3 separate regions of the Homo sapiens genome follow, and all the other regions are linked to region 1. The links come from fine-mapping of genetic effects on gene expression. A gene starts in region 1. Each other region holds a variant in brackets. All regions are shown on one strand. Distances are between the middles of the regions.

Region 1 (7,363 bases):
GTAATTTAGGCCCTCATTTGATTTATGCCAGACTACTTGAGAAGTCAGTTATTACTCTTTTCTAACTCCAATTCCTTCTTTTTCCCTTGCCTGCTGCCATGGTTTTGATATATAAACATATGTATGTGAATTAGCCAACGTTGACTGTGGACTTAGAAACCATAAAATCGTGAGTGTGCACCCTCATGGCGGGATTGATAGCATTATCTGGCGAACAGGCTAGTTATTGTGTGAGTGGGCTTTGGAACCAAGGATGAGTTTGGCCCTGATTTTCTGTTTATCACATGTCCTTTACCGTAGGATGGCCTCCTGCCATGTTGCAACATAGAAAGAAGATCTCACCAGATGCAGCCCCTTGGACTTTCCAGCCTTCAGAATAATGAGCAAAATAAGTCACCTTACAAATTACCCAGTCAGTGGTATTGTGTTGTCGCAGCAGCAAATGGACTAAAACACTCTATTATTTCTTCCTCTTTAGATAATTAAATAAACTAGCTTACAAAGGGCCATGTCAAATTTCCCATCAAATGATAAAAAAGCACATATTTTTTTTTAAATGCGGTACAGTAGCCTGCCACTAAAACAAAGCCCCATTTTACTCCTAACTGTATTTTTAGAAATAAAGGAAAAGCAACCATAAAGGTCAACATGTAATTTTATTGTTCAGTAAGATTATTGCAGGAATTTTTAATGTTCTTGTCAACATAAATTTCAGTCTCTGTTGTCATGCATAATCTGGTACTCTTTTGGTGGAAGATCAGTTGTAACTAGGGTGATATTTTTCCAGTAAAGATGGTTGAAGAGCTGGCCTGTAACGAAAGGCAACTGATGTATCAGCTGTCGCAGTCATTTACAACCACAGGTTGCCTGCTGGTAGCAGGTTAGAATGAGGAGCCTCATTGGCTAATACCTCAGGATATCTGGTGGGAAAAAGTAGGTGGTTTCACTATCAGCCCCAAAGGAGGGAGATATGATGTAGTATTGAGAAGCTGTGGTTGTAACAAAATTCACAACGTGGCCATTTGCTTACATGTCGGTGCTATGAGAGTGCATATGAATATTTGTCAATTGATTTAAAATAGCATGTTGATTTGTTGTAATTTGTTCTGATTGTCCAACTGAGGTTGAAATGGAAGAGGAGGGAAACCACTTCTAATTGGGTCAGGTGAACCAGCAATGCCCTGGCTGACAGAAGATTTCCTTGTTAGAGTCATATTTAAATTTGTAGATGTTGAAAATGAACTTTCTTCACTAGTTTCAGCAGCTAAGACAGAATTATGTTTATCTGTGTTAGCCCCTGCTCTAAAGTGTTTCTTGAAATATTCAGTGAAGTAGATACAAGAGAAGTGTTTTTAATCTTAATTCTTCTTTTCGTTCTTATTAAAAGTTGGGGACAGCCACGTTTGAAATTCGGATGATAATACAACTTTAACTAAAACCAAGGAGAAGGTAATTCAGTGCCATTTTAAACCAAGAGGCAAGTAACAATAACAAACATAACCCATACAATCTCAGATTTCTGTTTTATCACACAAAGTTAATATCATCAAATAATGAATGAACATTGTTTACTATTTTTAAGAACATGCTTGTTGAGAAAAAAAAACACTCAAGTTTTGAAGCCCTCTGGTGAAAACATGTTATACATTTAATAGTAACATTTCACTAAGTGGCTTTGGTATCTTTATTTGGAGTTCACTGGTAAGACTGAATGTTGTTAGCAACATTTCTTAAAACCTGAAAGTTTAATGCTCAACCTGCACTCAATAATTTCAAAAAAATTAAGTAATTTTTACCTTAATATTTGATATAATTTTTAAAATCTGATCTTACTGCATGTATTAACATAGTTACTGATATATAAAATGAAATTACATATATACTCAAAGTGGTAACTGAAATATTTTGAATACCTTGCTTAAAACAGAAATTTCTTTTTCTTCTGCCAGAAAGTTGGCTAGAAAAGCAGATCTGTGAAAATTCTGTTGAATTTTACTAAATCCATAAAGGTTGAGCTGTCAAATTAAGATTTTCATACTGTCAGTTTGAAATATTCTGTAAGGAGCCTTTATTTCCAAATTTTCTTTCTTGAAGAGTTCTTCATTAGTCACTATGCAAGTTTCATTCTTATCCTATGAATTAGACTTGAATTGGTCACTTTCAGCTATTTTCCAAAGTTTACTGGGAAAGGTCAGAGAAGGAAAATCATTATCTTTATCTGGCTCAGAGACATAAAGTATAATGTGGCCTTTTTATCAAGGATCCTTGTGGCAAAACCTGAAAATCATTGATTCAGTCATTGACCTTAAGTCTGAATCCCCAGGGATTATGTGTTCACACAATGGAGACCCAGAGGAGGCTTTTGAACCAGTTGATTCATCTTTAGGAGAAACATCTTGAGTTTCTGCAGAAACATGTGCCATCTCAAATAAGTAATTCTTTAGCGACTTTTCCAGCCTGCATGTGTTTCAAGACTGCAGCTTCAAATGCTGCTTCAGTAGTCTACTCAGGTAAAGTAATTGAGATCACCACAGTGGTTTCCAACCTGAGTAGCAATGGCATCACAAGAGGACTTTGGTCACCTAGCAACAAACATAAAAATTTGGCCAAGACTGTTTACTTTCCAGTCTCAGAAATGTATCTGGTAAAAATAAAATATAGAATGATTACTTACACAGTTTATTCTGCAAAAGTTTCATGCCTGCAGAATCTTTTAAATTAATAAGGAGGGCCAGGCATGGTGGCTCATGCCTGCAATCCCAGCGCTTTGGGAGGCCGGGACAGGCGGATCATGAGGTCATGAGTTCGAGACCAGCCTGACCACCATGGTGACACCCTGTCTCTACTAAAAATACAAAAATTAGCCAGGTGTGGTCCATGTGCCTGTAGTCCCAGGTCTCGGGAGGCTGAGGCAGAAGAATCGTTTGAACCCAGGAGGCGGAAGCTGCAGTGAGCTGAGATTGTGCCACTGCACTCCAGCCTGGGCAACAGAGCAAGACTCTGTCTTAAGAAAATAATAAATAAATAAATAAATAAATAAATAAATAAATTAATTAATATCCTCAATCCCTGAAATAAACATAATTTTCTCCTTGACACACACAGTCTTACTAGATTGGTGCGAGGAGCATAGGGCCTGGTAATTGGACGGTGCAAAAAAATAAAAATAAATATTTTAAAAACTCTCTCAGCTTGGCATGTTGGATTGAAAACTGATGCAGTGTAAAACATATATGGTAAAAAGACATGGCCATATAGACAAAAGGTAGGTTAATGGTTGTCAGGGGCTGGGGAATAGAAAGAACTGTTAAGTAGATAATGGGGTTTCCTGTTTGATGATAGAAATGTTTTAATAATATAATTTTGAATAATGTAATTTTGTATTATGTGAAACATACCTTAAAAAATTAAAATAAAATCAAATATGAATAAAACTGATTAGATTTCAGAATAAAAAGTTATTCATGTATGTATCTATTCAAAACATTTTTTATTCATATCATAGAATAAATAATACTTTCATTTGGTATGTCTGTAAATATCTGACATGTTAATTATGTAAGATTTTAAAAGCAAGTGACCTACTTATAAGGAGATCCCAAAGAGTGGGAGATTTAAAAATGTAATAATAACAAGAAAGTGTTTTAAGTAAAGTAAATTTGTATGTATGTCTAAGCAGAAAATTTTATTATTTGGTTCCAAGAGCCAAATATCTATTTAAAAAATATTTCTTAAGGAATAATCTCTGTGTCCTGCAACGTAAAGTTATCATTATAAAACAGGAGTCAAATTTGTGAATTAATCTTAGAATTGAATAAAATATTTCTTCTCTTTGAAAAATAATCATGCCCCATTTACAGTAAGAATTTTTATATGTTCATGCTTGAGAGGTGGTATATTAAAATTCTAATGCCTTGGCTTTAAGTGTTGAATATGTGTGGAATAAAAAAATAATGATTTTGATATTTCTTATACTGTAGGAGGCAGTTCTCTCATACTGGAAAGAGGTGTCATTGTTAGAAGCTTGTCTTGGTTTAACATAGTTTAAGTTTTGGGGGTGTATTTTGTTTAGTTCAAAATTTTCCATATTAGCAGTAAGTAACAAAAATGTCCAGATCAGAAAACTCTTTGTGAAAATAAAACAGGTGCTCCTACCAGATGTGGTTCATCAATTTTGACAGAATTTTCATTTAAAAAAGGCAAAATTAAAATTTGTTTAATTGTTTGCTTTCTGGGGAATTTTCTTGTTGCTCTGTCTGAAGGAAGTACAGACTTCTTTTGTGATGGGAGGGGATGAATGGCTACTAGACAGCAGCAAAAGATGGGCCATGGGTGCGAAGAGAAGAGGGAGTTAATGGGAGAATCAGAAAAATATCACCTTAAATGTAGGACAATCGAAGTCAAATTGTGGCTGAGCGTTTTGGGGAACTAAGATGTGTGACTCTGTAGGGAGGAAGAATGCCTTGGTGTTTTCAAGGGAAGATGACTCAGCTAGTGCAGTCACCTGACTCCAAACTGCAAGCCTACTTTAGTCATAAAAAGGCAAGAAAATAAGCAATTTTACCTGCAAAGCAAAGGACGTAGTGTTGAAAACGAGACCAGAAATGGTGCTGTTAAAGAGGTGAACAAAAGCATTTACTTTTTGAACGAGTTTCAAAACTGTGAGGGTGGCAAATAGGCAAGGTAAGTAGGAGCAGCCCTCGACCATCTCAGATCAGCTTCTTCAGCCTACCTTGACCTCTGCCTGTCTCAGCTGGGGATCTTAACATAAATCTCTGGATATCAGGGGTGGCTTTTCCCGAGTCTTGAGCCTAGAAACTCCCTCTCTTGATTCTGATTTTCAGAGAAGAGAAGCAGCTGCTTAGCATTTGGGTGGGACAGTGGTTGTTACTAATATATTACAAATTTCAGCATGTTTTTAAACATCAGAAGGAGAAAGTGCTTCGTATTTAAGTGAAATCTCAAAGGGGCAGAAATCTACCATATTTTTTGTTATTCAGATGCAGTGATGCACTGGCTATGTGAGTACAAGAAACAAGTTCACTTAATCACAAACACATGCCTAAATTCCATTGTTCAGTGACTTCACTTTCACTTTCTACCTTGAATTTTAGACTCTGGAAGACCCATTTCTAAACTCTGTGGCCCTTTTCATATGTGCATATTTTCATAAGTGTTTTCCAGAAATAAATTATAGAGGTCCTTCTGTGAGTCCAAAGGAGAAGGAAGTGGTTGGGGCAGCCAGAAAGGTGCAATCTGCATTAATATCATATTCGATGTATGGATTGCTGGGGAGAGAGTGGGATATATTTCTTATAATGTTGGATGTATTTTTCCCCTATCCTGAGGCCCAGAAACTCTGATGTCTCTGCAGTTGTCTTTCCATGCTTTCCTTTATACCCCTCGCCTACTTCTGTAATTTCTCTCTCTACTCTCCCTCCTCCTTCCCACCCTTTTTCTTTCCATTTGTGCTCTCTCCCTCCATTCCTTCTTTTTCCCTTTTCTTTCTTTTTGTGGGTATCTGGTAGCTGCAACTTATTTTCTTTCTGCTTTTCTTACTCACTTACTCTATTTACTAGGTATTTAACAATTGTCTTTAAAAGTAACATCCTTTCTTTCTTAAAATTTTATCCCTAATGGACATTATTTGGGGAAAAACATTTTTATGGTGCCTCTAGATAAGTAATTATATCATCTGCACATGATTCCCGTATTTTCTTACATGCCCGTTCCTCGTAGGTGGAAATGGGTACTTCATTGTACTCTTCTCTCTTTATTTACAAGAGTGTTTTTTCTGTCTCATCCCTTTAAATAACACATTGTCTCTCTTTTTGTGACATTGAATTAATTAGGTCAGATGCGATTTTTCTCATCTATTCATTTGAAGACTGTTTCATATTGCTTCTAGGGCCTATTTGCAAGCAACAAATTATTTTGTTGTTGTTGTTGTTTTGTTTTGTTTTTTAATTTTTGGACCATTTGTCTCATCACTCCAACAAGCAAGAATTAGTTCTCATCATTAAGATCCCTTCAAGATTTCATTCACTTGTTTCAGCAGCCTTGAATTATCATCACCTGGACCTGTTGTTACATCAAGAATCTCTCATTTCTAATGTTCTACTTTGGACACTGTTACCTGTGAGTTTGTTTACATTAAAAAAAAAAAACCTTTTAGTACTTGAGTACCCTAAAGTTTCATATTTTGAATTGGTGTCAGATTTATTATTATTGATCTCTCCATTGCTGGAGAAAACTAAGCAATAGGTAAACTCTATTCTTTTGGTAATTTGTATTTTCTGAATGTTTCACAGTAAATGTTTACTAGTCTTGTGATGCTGCAAATTGGCAATCAGATATATTTTAAAGTGACAAGGTTGCCCTGTTCATCACCAGTTCTGTACATCACGCAGATCAAAAGTAAGGTGTTTAAGTTTATTTTAAATGTTTTTCCCAAAAATTCTGCTTCCACCACTTTTCCAAGCTCTACCAGATGGATACTCAAGAATTGACCAAGGCAATCTCTTCTCTCATATTTCACTGTCAAATACTCTTAATCAGTGAGTCCTGTCAATTCTGTGTTTCTAAGAAATGATGATGGTGGTCATGATTATAATGATGTCAATAGGAACACCTTTCCAAACTTCACTGTGTACCACGAACTCTTCTTCCTGCTGCCGATGTATTATTTTCTCTACACTGCTATCTCCCCAGGAAGATTCTAATGATGTTATCATTGTACAGATGTGGAAACTGTAGCTTATGAGGTTTTAATTTTGCAATTCAAGGAAATGACAGGATTCTGGCAGTGTGGTAGCTCATGCTTGTAATCCCAACACTGGAAGGCTGAGGCAGGTGGATCACTTTAGCTCATGAGTTTGAGACCAGGAAGATGGTCAAACCCCATCTCCTCAAAAAACACAAAAATTAGTGTACATGGTGGCATGCACCTGTGGTCCCAGCTACTTGGGAGGCTAAGGCAGGAGGATCATTTGAGTCCTGGAGGTTGAGGCTTCAGTGAGTCTAGGTCACGCCACTGCACTCCAACCTGGGTGACAAGGGCAGATCATGTCTTAAAAAATAAACAAATAAATACCCACCACAACCAAAAGCAAAGGAAGCAAGCATAATAAGCTAGTTAATATGCTTGTTAGCAATGTGGACATTTATTTTATAGTTAAAAGAAAAAAATAGAAGTGACAGTATTGTAACTCAGAAAGTCTGGTTCCAGAGTTTGTACTGCTAACCAGAACAACTTGAGCATCAGTTGATATTTTCCATTTTTTTTGCTCTACTTTGTCTGATATTAATATAGCCATTCCAGCAGTCTTATCACTAGGGTTAGTAGTGCACAGCTTTATTCCAT
Region 2 (7,363 bases), 52 kb after region 1:
CCTCAACGGGAAAATAATGAAAAGAAACTGTACTTCAGGAATCCCAGCCGTGGTATTTACTAGGCAAATATTTTAATTTACTTGACTTCAATGTTCTCAAATACCTAAGAGAAGCCAGGACAACAGTGTTTCAAAAATGGAAAATACCAATAAAGACCTACAAATTATTTTTAAAAATGAAATTCATACCCTGTAACTAGAAAGACTGAAGAGTATGCATGAGCATGCAGGAAGGATAATCAAGGAACTTGAAGACGGATTGTTTGCTATTCAGTCTAAGGAAGGTACAAGAAGAGAAAAACAAGAAAAATGAATAAAACTAAGGTAGCCATGGAACAACATCAAGTATATCAACATATTCATAATGGGAGCCCCACAGGAAAAGGAGACACAGAGATAAAAAAAATAATTTGAAGAAGCAATGGCTGAAACTTCCCAAATGTGCTGATAGATACAAATTTACTTATTCAAGAATCCCAGAAGAAAAAAAATACTCCTAGAAGAATAACCTCAAAGATATCTACACTGGAACACATACACTGAAATTGACAAAAGATAAATTAATAGAGAACTTTAAAAGAAGCAAGACAGAAGTAACTGATCACATGCAAGTTATCCTCAATGACATTAACAGCCAATTTCTCATTAAAATTTATGGAGGAAAGAAGTCACTGGGGTGACATATTTAGAGGGCTGAAAGAAAACATAAATCAGTCATAAACTCAATATCTGGCAAAACCGAACTCAATTTCTCAATTTATGAGTAAGGCATTTCCAAGCAAACAATTAAAGAGAGTACATCACTATTAGATTGGCCTTACAAAATATGATGAAGTAAGGAATGTAAGAACAATACACAGTAACCCATGTGCAAATAAATAAATAAATAACATCAATAAAGTAATTACACCAGGAAATAGAAAAGCCAATACCATTGTATTTGGGGGTTTCTGTGACTTTATTTTTCTACTAGATTTAAAAAGTGGTAAGGCACAGTATTTCACATCTGTAATCCCAACCAAGGTGGGAGGTTTGGTTGAGCCCAGGAGTTTGAGACCAGCCGGGGCAACAAAGTGTGACCCTGTCTCTACAGAAAATAAAATTAGCCAGGTATGGTGGCATGAACCTCTAGCCCCAGCTACAAGGGAGGTGGAAGTGGGAGGATCCCTTGAGGCCAGGAGCTCAAGGCTGTAGTGAACCATGTTTAGCCTGCATGATTGAAACCATGTCTCAGTAAAGTAAAATAAAATAATAAAATAAAGAAATGACATATAATAAGACAAGAATTATATATCTGTGCTGTTAGCACATATTGAATAAGAAGCAATTTTTGACAAAACGTAGGAATGGAGGGACAGCAGTATGGGAAAATATTTTTATATAATGTAAACAGTTGTTATAATTCACACTATATTATTATAAATTTAAGATATTAGTTATAATACCCTTAATGACCACTAAGAAAATAACTGTTAAAATATACTAAAGAGAAATGAGACAGTCAAAATGGTACCCTAGAAAAACAATCAAATGTAAAAATGAGCAGTTTTTGGAGGAATTGAATAACAACCACAACAACAACAAATTTGTAGAAAACAAGGACAAAAATAGCAAAATCTTTCTTATCAGTAATTACCTTAAATGCAGATAAATTAAACTCCAGTTAAAAGTCAAAGATTGACAGAATGACTTTTTACATGTTTTAAAAGGGACGGGAAAATTAATTCAAACAGTAACCAAAATAGAGCTAGAGGTACTATGCAAATATCAAGAATGTTTAATTCATCAAAAAGATATTATCCTTACATATTTACCTAATAAAAGATCCGCAGGATATATGAAACAAAGACAAACAGATTTGAAGAGGTGGACAGTTCTGCAATAATAGTTGGTGATTTCAACATCCCACTTTCAACAGTGGATGAAACAACCAAACAGAGGTTCAATAAGAAAACAAATGTCTTAAACAGCATTATAAACCAAATGAGGCTATTAGACATATACAAAACACTCCACTCCACAAGTGGATTAAATATTCTTCTAAAGGGTTTATAGGTCCAGAATAGTCTTCACGGTAGGCCACAAAGCAAGTCTCATATTTAAAACTATTGAAATCACACATAATGCTTTTTCCAACCACAGTGGAATAAAACTAGAGACTGCCCCCCCTCTTTTTTTTTGAGACGGAGTTTTGCTCTGTCACGCAGGCTGGACTGCAGTGGCACAATGTCAGCTCACTGCAACCTCTGCCTTCCATGTTCAAGTGATTCTACTGCCTCAGCCTCCCAAGTAGCTGAGACTACAGGTGCCCACCACCACACCTGGCTAATTTTTATAATTTTAGTAGAGATGGAGTTTCACCATATTGATCAGTCTGGTCTTGAACTCCTGACCTCAAGTGATCCATCCCCCTCAGCCTCCCAAAGTGCTGGGATTACACGCACGAGCCACTGTGACCGCCTGAGCCCCATTTTCTAAAAACTGAAAAATGTATAATATTTGGAAACTAAACAATACACTCTTCAACAACCTATGGCTAATTGAAGAATCTGCAAGAAATTAAAGAATCCTTGCAGATAAATGGAAAATTAAAGCATATTGAAACTTCTGGGATGCAGCAAAATCAATACTGAGAAATATATAGTTGCAAACATAGACACATAAAGAAGAAATGTAAAATTATCAATTCACACACAAGGAAGTAGAAAAAGTGCAAACTAGAGAAGAGTACTTTTACAAAAAAATGACATAGTAAAGGAAGCTGGCATGTTTCCCCACCAACCCTAGCTCCCCCTCCCCCCAAGAACACATACAGGAAACCAAAAACCGATATACATTGCATAGGTTATCACCAGCAATAACTCAGAGCTCAAATATGAGGATGAGGCAGCTCCTAGGGTGACAGAGAAGTGAAGAAACCAGGCAGATGATAAGAAAGTTTGGCTTTTATATTCATGACACTCTTCCCCTAGTCTGCTGGCAACGAAGTGTAAAAAAAAAAAAAAATCCTCTGTCTCATGCTTACTACACTGGATTAAATAAAGTTGAAGTGGACAACACAAGCCACTTTTGATTTCCTGGCAGGAAACCTGTTCCTGTCTTAACCCACAGGAAGCCTTGTGAATGCCTGAAAGAAGAAGAATTCCTGAGGACAACCAGGGACAAGGCAGAAAGGCAGGACTACCACCTCCAGCCTTGATATCTTAGCCATAGGAGATGCCAAACCAGAGTGCCTGTGCAGCAGTACCATGAGGTAGGAGGTATATTTCATAATTTCCCTAGGCACAAACTTATAGCCAGCCTTCCCTCACTGTTAGCATAGCCCCTTCAGGATCTCTCTGATAGGGGACTGGCAGCAATCCTAAGCTTGCTAGAGCTGAGGCAAACCTTGGCTTAAGGCACCATCTACTGTCAAAACAAAGGAACTGACGTAGCTGAAAGCAAGCAAACAAAAACCCACCATAGGTGTGTCTAAAAAAACCTCAACGCAAATATATTCAGTAAAACACAAAATAATACAGAGAAAAGAATGAACTGAATAACTAGTCCTTCAATAAAAAGATATAGATGTATAACCACTAGAAATAATACCGAACAAGGAATCATAATCTTCCCAAATGGACAAAGCACTAAACCATTGACCAGTGCTAAATAATGTGATGGCTATCAGTGAGTTCTCTAATCAAGAATTCAAAATGGCGGTTTTCAGGAAATTCAGATCTCTAAAATGACAGAAAAGGAACTAATAAACTTCTGAGAGAAATTTT[T/A]AAAAATGAAATAATTTAAAAAATCCTGGAACTAAGAAACACATTGGCTGAAGTGAAAAATTCAAGAGACTCTCACCAGCAAAACAGATCAAACAACAAAAAAATCAAATGTGATTTTTAGAGTGAGCTCTAAAACAGGTTATTAGGGCTAGGTATGGTGGCTCACGCCTGTAATCCCAGCACTTTGGGAGGTTGAGGTGGGTGGATCACTTGCAGTCGGGAGTTCAAGACCAGCCTGGACAACATGCTGAAACCCTGTCTCTGCTAAGAATACAAAAATTTAGCTTGGCATAGTGGTGCACACCTGTAATTCCAGCTAGGTATTAGGTCTCCTATAGAATCGGTAATCTTGTCTCATTTGCTAGAAGCACAATTTAGATAAAATATAAAATGGATATAAGCCAGTGAGTTTTATATTACTCTATTGCTTTATTCATGGGTAAATTTTGTCAGGGCTATAAAATCTGCTTGCCTTTATCTATATTTTTAGCATATAGATGAACTGTGTGTGATATATTTCTACCTCTGGATGTTAGTACCAAGTTAATTTTTAATATCACTTAAAAGGGTGCTATCCAAATTGGCTAAGAGATAAATGAGCATTATTGTGAATTACATACTCCTAAAAATCCTAGAAATAGACAATCAAGTTCACATGACTCATGAAAATGTTTAGTAAATGAGATTAGTTTAAAATAGTTTATTGCACACAGCCACAGATTACAAGTTATTGTTATTATTAACTGCAAGAATACATTTGCGGGCCAGGCATGGTGGCTAACGCCTGTAATCCCTGCACTTTGGGAAACCAAGGCAGGTGGATCATCTGAAGTCAGGAGACCAGACCAGCATGGCCAAGATGTTGAAATGCCATCCTTACTAGAAATACAAAAGTCAGCCAGGAAATGTGGTGCACACCTGTAATCCTAGCTACACAGGTGGTTGAGGCAGGACAATTTTTTGATCCCAGGTGGCAGAGGCTGCAGTGAGCTGAGCTCACACCACTGCAATCCAGCCTGGATGACAGAGGGTGACTCTGTCAGAAAAAACAAACAAACAAACAAACAAACAAACAAAAAACACGAAAAAAGGGAATACACTTGATTTGTATACTTATTGGATTTCCTAATGTAGTAATTGAGCTGTGATATACTCACTGGACATTTAAGATTTTATAAAGATTTTTATGACAATAGAGAAATTTCTGCAGTTTAGTAAAAATGCATTTGCATAGAACATAAGTGGAAAGTGGTTTTATAACCAAGTCTTGTCTGAAATATCAAATATGTTTAAGAATGATTTCCATAGAATCAGATATAACCAGGTAGCATTAAGAACTAAAGTTGACCGTGGGGGCAATACTTATAAAGCCTTCATGGAAAAACCAACCTGGTAATTGGTTACAGAGTTCCTAGCCTACAAGATAAGAAAGGTCACTTCTGGGCAAGCTCTGGAACCTCACCATATTTGAAGACTTTGAGAGGAGTGGAATTCAACCAAATCTACAGGTTCTGATAGGGAAGTCGGTGGCAAGTTCCTGGCTTGGCTTCTAGTCCCAAGGCTTCAAAAAATATAATCTGAGACTAGTTACAGAAATTTTCAAAAATGAAACTGGAAAGGCCTCTGTGGCCAGGAAGGTGGGTCACACCTGTAATCGCAGCACTCTCACAGGCTGAGGTGGGAGAGGCACTTGAGCCCAGGAATTCACGACTAGCCTAGACAACATGGTGCAACCCCATATCCAGATACAAACAAACAAACAAAACAAAACACAAAATTAACCAGCCATGATGGTGTGCTCCTATGGTCTCAGTTACTCAGGAGGCTGAGGTGGGAGGACCACTTGAGCCCAGGAGGTTGAGAATGCAGTGAGCCAGACACTGTCTTTCATTTAAAAAGTGTATAATGAATAAATGAAGAAATAAAGAAAGGTGTTTGTGGTCAGTGACCATTCTTATTGCACTCAGGTAAATAATGCCAAAACTAGTAAGGCCAGACTGATTTTCTGAACAAGAGTAAAGAGAAGTACCACAGAGAGAATTTTGTTTCAATGGAAAATTAGAGGACACCCACGTGAGATGTTTTACAAATTTTATTAGTCTACATTTTTCAGTTCTTGTTTTATTCAATATATAGCTACAACTCTGTAAACTAAAATTTCAACATTGTGTCCCCCTTTTCATGGTTTAGCATCACTGAAAACTAAAACTGCCCAATTTTCCCCAAACCTTGTAAGCTGAAGCTGGATAACTAGGTATCAACATTTTATTTTTATTTTTTTTATTATTATTATACTTTAAGTTTTAGGGTACATGTGCACAATGTGCAGGTTTGTTACATATGTATCCATGTGCCATGTTGGTATGCTGCACCCATTAACTCGTCATTTAGCATTAGGTATACCTCCTAATGTTATCCCTCCCCCCTCCCCCCACCCCACAACAGTCCCCGGTGTGTGATGTTCCCCTTCCTGTGTCCCTGTGTTCTCATTGTTCAATTCCCACCTATGAGTGAGAACATGTGGTGTTTGGTTTTTTGTCCTTGCGACAGTTTGCTGAGAATGATGATTTCCAGTTTCATCCATGTCCCTACAAAGGACATGAACTCATCATTTTTTATGGCTGCATAGTATTCCATGGTGTATATGGGCCACATTTTCTTAACCCAGACTATCGTTGTTGGACATCTGGGTTGTTTCCAAGTCTTTGCTATTGTGAATACTGCCGCAATAAACATACATGTGCATGTGTCTTTATAGCAGTGTGATTTATAGTCCTTTGTGTATATACCCACTAATGGGATGGCTGGGTCAAATGGTATTTCTAGTTCTAGATCCCTGAGGAATCGCCACACTGACTTCCACAATGGTTGAACTAGTTTACAGTCCCACCAACAGTGTAAAAATGTTCCTATTTCTCCACATCCTCTCCAGCACCTGTTGTTTCCTGACTTTTTAATGATTGCCATTCTAACTGGTGTGAGATGGTATCTCATTGTGGTTTTGATTTGCATTTCTCTGATGGCCAGTGATGATGAGCATTTTTTCATGTGTTTTTTGGCTACATAAATGTCTTCTTTTGAGAAGTGTCTGTCTGTTCATGTCCTTTGCCCACTTTTTGATGGGATTGTTTGTTTTTTTCTTGTAAATTTGTTTGAGTTCTTTGTAGATTCTGGATATTAGCCCTTTGTCAGATGAGTAGGTTGCAAAAATTTTCTCCCATTTTGTAGGTTGCCTGTTCACTCTGATGGTAGTTTCTTTTGCTGTGCAGAAGCTCTTTAGTTTAATTAGATCCCATTTGTCAAGTTTGCCTTTTGTTGCCATTGCTTTTGGTGTTTTAGACATGAAGTCCTTGCCCATGCCTGTGTCCTGAATGGTATTGCCTAGATTTTCTTCTAGGGTTTTTATAGTTTTAGGTCTAACATGTAAGTCTTTAATCCATCTTGAATTAATTTTTGTATATAAGGTGTAAGGAAGGGATCCAGTTTCAACTTTCTACATATGGCTAGCCAGTTTTCCCAGCACCATTTATTAAATAGGGAATCCTTTCCCCATTGCTTGTTTTTGTCAGGTTTGTCAAAGATCACATAGTTGTAGA
Region 3 (7,363 bases), 64 kb after region 1:
CATTTTAACCATTTTTAAGTGCATAGTTCAGTGTCACTAAATACAGTCACCTGATTGTACAACCATCACCACCATCCATCATCTCTAGAAGTTTTTCTTTTTTGATTTCCCAGACTGAAACTCTGCATTCTTTAAGCAATAGCCCTTCCTTAATCTCTTCTCCCAGTAACTGGGAAGCATCATTCTACTTTTGGTTTCTATGAATATTACATGCTAGATATCTCATATAAGTGGAATCAGGCAGTATTAGTTTTTTGTATCCAGCTTCTTTCACTTAGCATTATGTCAAAGTCCATCCATGTTGTAACATGCATCAGAATGTCCCTTTTTAAGGCTAAGTAATATTCCACTGTATATCTGTACCACATTTTGTTTATCCATTCCTCTGTCAATGAATGCTTCCACCTTTTGGCTATCATGAATAATGTTACTATGCACATGAATTTGCAAATATCTGTTGAAGTCCCTGCTTTCAAGTCTTGTGGGTTTAAACCCAGAAGTGGACTTGCTGACTCATATGGTAATTCTATGTTTCATTTTTATTTATTTATTTATTTATTTATTTATTTATTTGAGATGGAGTCTGGCTCTGTCACCCAGGCTGGAGTGCAGTGGTGTGATCTTGGCTCACTGCGACCCCCACCTCCCAGGTTCAAGGGGTTCTGCTGCCTCAGCCTCCTGAGTATCTGGGATTATAGGCACACAGCACCATGCCCAGCTAATTTTTGTATTTTTAGTTGAGATGGGGTTTCACCATGTTGGTCAGGCTGGTCTTGAACTCCTGACCTCGTGATCTGGCCACCTTGGTGTCCTAAAGTGCTGGGATTACAAGCATGAGCCACTGAGCCCAGCCTATGTTCCATTTTTTTTTTTTTAATTTAGGAACCGCTGTACTCTTTTCCACCATGACTATACCACTGTAGAATCCACTGGCAATTCACAAGAGTTTCAATTTGGCTACATCCTCACCAACACTTATTATTCCCTGGTTTTTTGATGATTGCCATCTTAATGGGTATGAAGTGGTATCTTATTATGGTTTTGATTTGCTTTTCCTTAGTAATCAGTGATGTTGAGCGTCTTTCATGGGCTTGATGGCAAGTTGTATATCTTTTTTGGGAAAATTTCTATGTAAGTCCTTTGCCTATTTTTTAATTGGGTTGTTTCTTTATTGCTGAGTTGTAGGAGTTCTTTATATATTCTGGATATTGATCCCTTATCAAAGATATTATTTAAAATATTTTCTTCCATTCTGCCGGTTGTCCTCTGATTGCACAAAAGTTTTAAATTTTGATGATGTCCAATTTACTTATTTTTTGTTTTGTTACTTATGCTTTTGGTGTCAGAAAGCTTTTAGTTTATAATTTTAAATATATCACATCTCCTGCCTCATAAGTACCACTGGACAAGGTCCCTTTTATGTACTTAGCTTCTGTTAGAGATAAATGTATTTTGAAGTGGAGAACAAAGATAATTGCAAAATTGGCATGGAGAACTAAGGTAATTATGAAAGTTCCAGATACAAAGAGAGAGGGCTCAATATGCCAGCAGTTCTCTACCAATCCATCCTAGAGGTCTTCTTTTAGGATTGACTAAATAATGCAGGGGATGGGTACAAGACACACAAGTGTTCCAGAAGCATGTAAACAAGGTACAGAGAAGAGGATAAGTTAAAATAAGATGACATAAGAATATTAGGAAAGCCTTGTTCAGAAGATTGCCTACAGAGGCAAAAGGGACAGTTTCATTTTGCTGAGGGAAACAGGGTGGTAAGAACCCTCGTGGGGAAGACCCCTGCTTACCCTGATACAGAGAGAAGGTGTAAAATAACTTAATGGGAGAGCATTAGGCTGAGATAGCTCCCATGGCCTGGGTTCCTACATAGACAAAAGGAACCCGTCAACAACCTGTAAAAAGCTTAGCCCATCAAAAAGTGGCCTGCTGAGTGTTAGCTGTGTAATGAGAGACCTACCACCAGGATAGTTCAAATAATGCAACTGCCCAATTTTTTGCCAATCAAATAATTTCTCTACTCTACTTCTGTATTCACCCTATGAAAGCCTTCCCTACAAACACCTCCAGTAGATCCTCCAGCCACTTTCAGTTTGGAGCTGCCTGATCCATGAATCTCTGTTTGCTCAAATAAACTCTTTTAAATTTTAATATGCTTAAGTTTATCTATTTTTTTTCTGATTTTTAAAAATTGAAATGGGATCTTCCTATGTTGTCCAGACTGGTCTAAAACTCCTGAACTCAAGGGATCCACCTGCCTCAGCCTCCTGAGTAGCTGGAATTATAGACGTGTGCCTCCACACCCAGCTTACATTTATCTTTAAACAAGGGTTTGACCCCTTTCTGAAATATATTTGTGTGAAGACCTGTACCCTCAGTGATATGGCAGGCTCGTTTTAGACCTTCGAGCACTTTTGTCTCTGGACCACAATTTGCCCTTTGTGACCTGCTCTCCTAAAAAATTCAAGTGTAATTCAAGTTAGTTTACCCTCTGCTGATGAGCGGAGGTTGCTCTGGGTGCAAGTTCAAGACAGGCACTCACACCTTCATTCATACCCCAAATCTCAGCATCACGCAATATACCCATGTAATAAACCTGCACAGGTACCCTCCAGAATCTAAAATGAAAGTTGAAATTCCTTAAGATTGTAATTTCATCTTATTAAAAAACAAGGATAAAGTTACTTCTTTCCAATTTTGATATATATTATACTGACATACACACTGTATTCTATGGTGAATTATACTGATTGAATTTCACATTTTAAACTAACACTGAGTTACTTTGAAAAACTCTATTGGGTCATAATGTATTAAGTTTTTAATATATTTTAATACAGTTTGCAAAAATTCTGTTTTAAAATTACATCTATGTTCCATAAATAAATATATAAAAAATAAGAAATGTTTATATTATTCAAGTGAAGATTATAGCGATCTTTTTGAATGTCTACTTAACCTCAACTAGTTTTAAATTCAGAAGTAGCAACTCCATAGAAATTCAACTTATTTCTACCTTATTACTCATACTTGTCTCCTTGAAGAAGCTTCATTGCTATCATCCAGTTTAGACTGGGATGTCATAAATGTCTAGACTGAGTAGTATAATATTCACTGTTCAAATAAAATCAAATTATCATTATAATATTATGGCACCTCCAAATACAAAAAGCAAGCCCATGGATGTTAGGTTAAGGTATAGAGACAAGTATTCCTACTTACTATCTTTTAGGGCAGACATATCCCAGCCAAGGTGATTGCAAAATGAAATGGAAACCATATGGTAGAAGGGGACTTGGGACTCACACGGATTTTCATTCCAACCCTTACATACACAAGCTGCCTGACTCTGGGTTGATTGCATATTCTCTTAGAGTTTCAATTTCCTCGTCTGTACAATGGAGGTTAATGCCTATGGGCTATGGCTGATGTGGGGACAAAAGAACCAACCCTGATGCATGGGCAAGGGCCTGGTCCATAGAACGAGTAGCTGGCATCAACAAATGGAAGCCCCTTCCCAACTTTTCTTTGCGTGCACTACAAAATCTGGAATACGTGGGTATAAAAAGTACTCTAATAAGAGACATAACTGGAAACTTTTGCAAAAAGAGTTTGGAAAGGTGTCACATCTTGTGGCATGAGGAGTTGTGGGCATACACTTGAACTTTGTGCTGTGAGATATCCACAGAACTTCAGTAGCTTAAGACAACAGTTTAGGTGTCATCTTATTCATCTACCATAGAACTTCCTCTTCTTTACTGAGATTTCTAGACGATAACTTTTACAGCTCTAATAATGCAGTTCTCTCCCAGTTGTTTGGACTATTCTAATAGATACAAAGCAGTATTTCACCAGCAGATGCTACTGCAGTTTGTATGATGATTTCAAACTGAGAATCCATTTAAAGTTATGCAATACTTTTTTTGGAAATAGCATGAAAGTACTTTAAGTTTAAAATCTTATAAAATAGGTTTACAGTAAATAATTATTTGTTGCAATGCCTATCATACTATCTTATATTCACACATGTATCAGTCCTAATAAATATGTGTGGTGAGTGAAATTTACTTGAGGGCAGAGACTGTGCCATATGTTCCCTGCACCGCTGATGCCTATCTCAGCTCATGATATACAATAGATGCTCAGTAAATACTTTAACTTAAAAAATGCACTAAGAATAAATCTTATTAGACATCAAAATATGTATGAGTACAATCTAGGGACATGGTCAGGAGCTCAAAATTCAATCTTATTTATTTATTTATTTATTTA[G/TTTAG]AGACAGTGTCTCACTCTGTTGCCAAGGCTGGAGTGCAGTGGTGCGATCTCAGCTTACTGCAACCTTTGTCTCCTGGGTTCAAGCGATTCTCCTGCCTCAGTCTCCAGAGTAGCTGGGATTACAGGTGCACACCAACATGCTAATTTTTTTGTATTTTTAGTAGACACAGGGTTTCACCATGTTGGCCAGGCTGGTCTCAAACTCATGAGCTCAGGCAATCTACCCACCTTGGTCTCCCAAAATGCTGGGATTACAGGTGTCAGCCACCACACACAGCCACAAAATGCTTTAAAGTAGCTTCAAAACCCCTTTGCAAATAGGTGTTTTCATAACAAGATGGAAACAAGAAAACATTGAGCTTCATATAATAGAAGGGTTCTGCCTGGATTTGCATGTGGCCCCATCATTTGTTTGCTGTTGGGCCATGGTCAGGTTACTTAGCTGCTCTCTGCCTCCACATAGGATTTATGCCTGTGCATCCCTCATCTACAAAATGGGAATAATAAGAATATCTAACAGTTAGAAATGGAGAAAATATATGTAAAGGCCTTTGAAAAGAGCTTGTCAAAGCTCAATAATTGTCCTCAATAATTGCTCTCAATAATTGTCAGCTATCGTTCAATAACAATCATAATCATAAAAATATATGACTCAAAGGAAGATTCCTACCTCCTATCCAGCTTCCCAAAAGAATATCAGACATTGGACCTGTGAAAGGAATGACATTGAGATGTATTTTCACATCGCTAAGTTGGTTTTTTCTCTTTGCCATTCGATTTCTGCAGTCCCCACACTAAGCCCATGGTCCACCATTTTATTTTTCCTCCTAAAATGTCTTCCCTTCTCGTAAAATTTACTTTTCCTTAAAAAGGGCCCTTTTCATCCACTCACTCTTTTACCCATCCCAGAAGTTGGTTAATGGGCACAAAAATACAGTTAGATGGAATGAACAGAAGAATTTCTAGTGTTCAATAGCACAGTAGGGTGACGATCATTAACAATAACATATATTTCAAAATGACTAGAGGAAAGATGTGGAATGTTCTCAACACAAATAAATGATAAATGGTTGAGGTGATGGATATGCAAATTATCCTGATTTGATCACTACACATTGTATGCATGTATCAAAATATCACATGTACCCTAGAAATAATTATAATTGTATCAATAAAAACAAAAAGGGCCTATTTCTCTTTCCTTCCTCCCCACATTCCCTCCTATCCCAGATATGTGTTGCTCCTGGGACTCTCCTGCCCCACGTTCAGTCAGCACTGAGCCAGCAGGAAGGATCTCACAGGTCATATCCTGAGATCAACCCTCCACCCCTTCAGGTAATGATCCTCCTGCTCTTAGTCATTTATATCCTTTGGTTCATAGATATTCTGAGTCAAGTGCCTTCTAACCGCTGAGCTACATAATATCCCTTGGTTTTTAAAGATAATACAAAGTGAATTTTAGTAACAATGTTGAGTCATCATAGAAGCTAATGAAGTTGGGGATTCCATGAAGTCATCTAAGCGTATAAAGCCACATTTCCCTGGGTCCCTTTTCCTTAGCTCAAGGCCACAAAAATCAGAACATGAATTCCAGCCCATATTTGCATTATGTCTAAATAATTACGAATTATAAATGAAGTTAAAAAATAGCTAAATATGTTCTATTCTTCTACTTCAATAAATATACCACCGTAATAACCCACAAGGTCGAAGTCGAGTGTAGAATTCTCTGATTCCTTGGTGCTCTGCCAGAGAATGTGGTAGCAAAGGGAGAGCTGATCTTCAGCCCCAGGCTAAACTTTTTTCTTTCATCGTAGCTAGCCCTGTCCTTACTTGAGAAGCCTTGCGTACCCCTGTGTGGGGGACTCCCTAGGCCCCATACAAGCTCCATCCACAATTCTCACCCCTTCAGACAGCAGAGCCTTGGGCACCATTTCAACAAGCACAGTTTTCACTTTGAAATGGACCCAGGGAAGAGGCCATGCAGGCTCAGGTACATTTGGCCAGGGGCCTGAGTGCCCAGCGTGTGCCCTAGAACAGAGGGTGAGAGCTCTGGGTGGGCCGGGTTACAGTCAGTGGAGGGCCAGAGAGGCACCCTCTCAAGCGCAGGATTCAGGGCGGGGGTCCTCTTGCCAAGATCGATGGCTGCGATTCCTCCGTGCAATGACGACTGCGTCAGGTCTTCTCAGCGCACCTTTCATTCAGTCTCAGCCACCGTGGGGAGTTCCATGGAAGCACAGGCTTCCCTTGTGCTGCCAGCAAACTCAAGCTACACTTTCCGCCCCGGGACATCTCCACTATTGTAGGATTTTGCCTAAGCACAAATACAGCCCAGAAACACTTGCAGGTTAACAGCCTCAGGGGAAGACCTCAACCCGTGTGGGACAGGTGGGCAAATGCTCGAGGCTCACGTTTCAGGTGGACAGTCCTGGATAACTTTCCAGAGCCTCTCGGTAGGTCCCGCATAAAAAAAGTCCATGGGAGCAGCCTCAATGGCATTTCATTATTTTGGCTTTTTTTTTCTTGCCTGGCTCACTCTTCCCACATCTCACTCTTGCTTCTTGGAATCACTTCCCAAATAAACCATCCACACCCAAGTCTTTACTCCAGCTCTGCTTTCAGGGGTACAGGCACACCTTGGAGATATTGCAGGTTTGGTTCTAGGTCACCACAATAAGGCGAATATCACAATAGAGCAAGTCACAAGAAATTTTTTGCTTTCTGGTGCATATAAAAGTTATGTTGCCGGGCATGGTGGCTCACGCCTGTAATCCCAGCACATTGGGAGGCCGAGGCGAGTGGATCACCAGAGGCCAGAAGTTTGAGATCAGCCTGGCCAACATGGGGAAACCCTGTGAAAATACAAAAATGGTGGTGAGCGCCTGTATTCCTAGCTACTCAAGAGGCTGAGGCAGGAGAATTGTTTGAACCTGGGAAGCAGAGTTTGCAGTGAGACAAGATCACACCACTGCACTCCAACCTGGGCAACAGAGTGAGACTCCATCTCAAAAAAGAAAGTTGTGTTTAAACTACTGTAGTCAATTAGTGTGCAATAGCATTATGTTTAAAATATAATGTA

Alleles and levels. Alleles are on the strand shown, and positions count from the first base shown. SD is a standard deviation of normalised expression in the study named. Not every link is listed here.
With allele TTTAG in place of G in region 3, the expression in neutrophils of the gene that starts at base 4,563 in region 1 is higher (large effect, 1.3 SD a copy in Naranbhai 2015).

The links. PIP is the estimated chance that this variant, and not a neighbour inherited with it, causes the effect. A credible set is the group of variants that fine-mapping cannot tell apart.
Region 2: its variant is the best candidate, but not a certain one, in a credible set for the expression of XKR3 in blood mononuclear cells (TOPMed, PIP 0.55).
Region 3: its variant is the best candidate, but not a certain one, in a credible set for the expression of XKR3 in neutrophils (Naranbhai 2015, PIP 0.63).

Annotation. Positions count from the first base shown.
Region 1 is chr22:16,822,611-16,829,973 of GRCh38, reverse strand. XKR3 (XK related 3) reads left to right here and starts at 4,563. Exons shown (of 4, transcript NM_001386955.1): 1 at 4,563-4,683. It also overlaps the pseudogene HSFY1P1.
Region 2 is chr22:16,770,811-16,778,173 of GRCh38, reverse strand. No RefSeq gene overlaps it. Among named protein-coding and RNA genes, the nearest start is that of LINC01665, 26 kb to the right of the region's middle. The variant T/A (reference allele first, on the strand shown) is at 3,768.
Region 3 is chr22:16,758,996-16,766,358 of GRCh38, reverse strand. No RefSeq gene overlaps it. Among named protein-coding and RNA genes, the nearest start is that of LINC01665, 14 kb to the right of the region's middle. The variant G/TTTAG (reference allele first, on the strand shown) is at 4,285.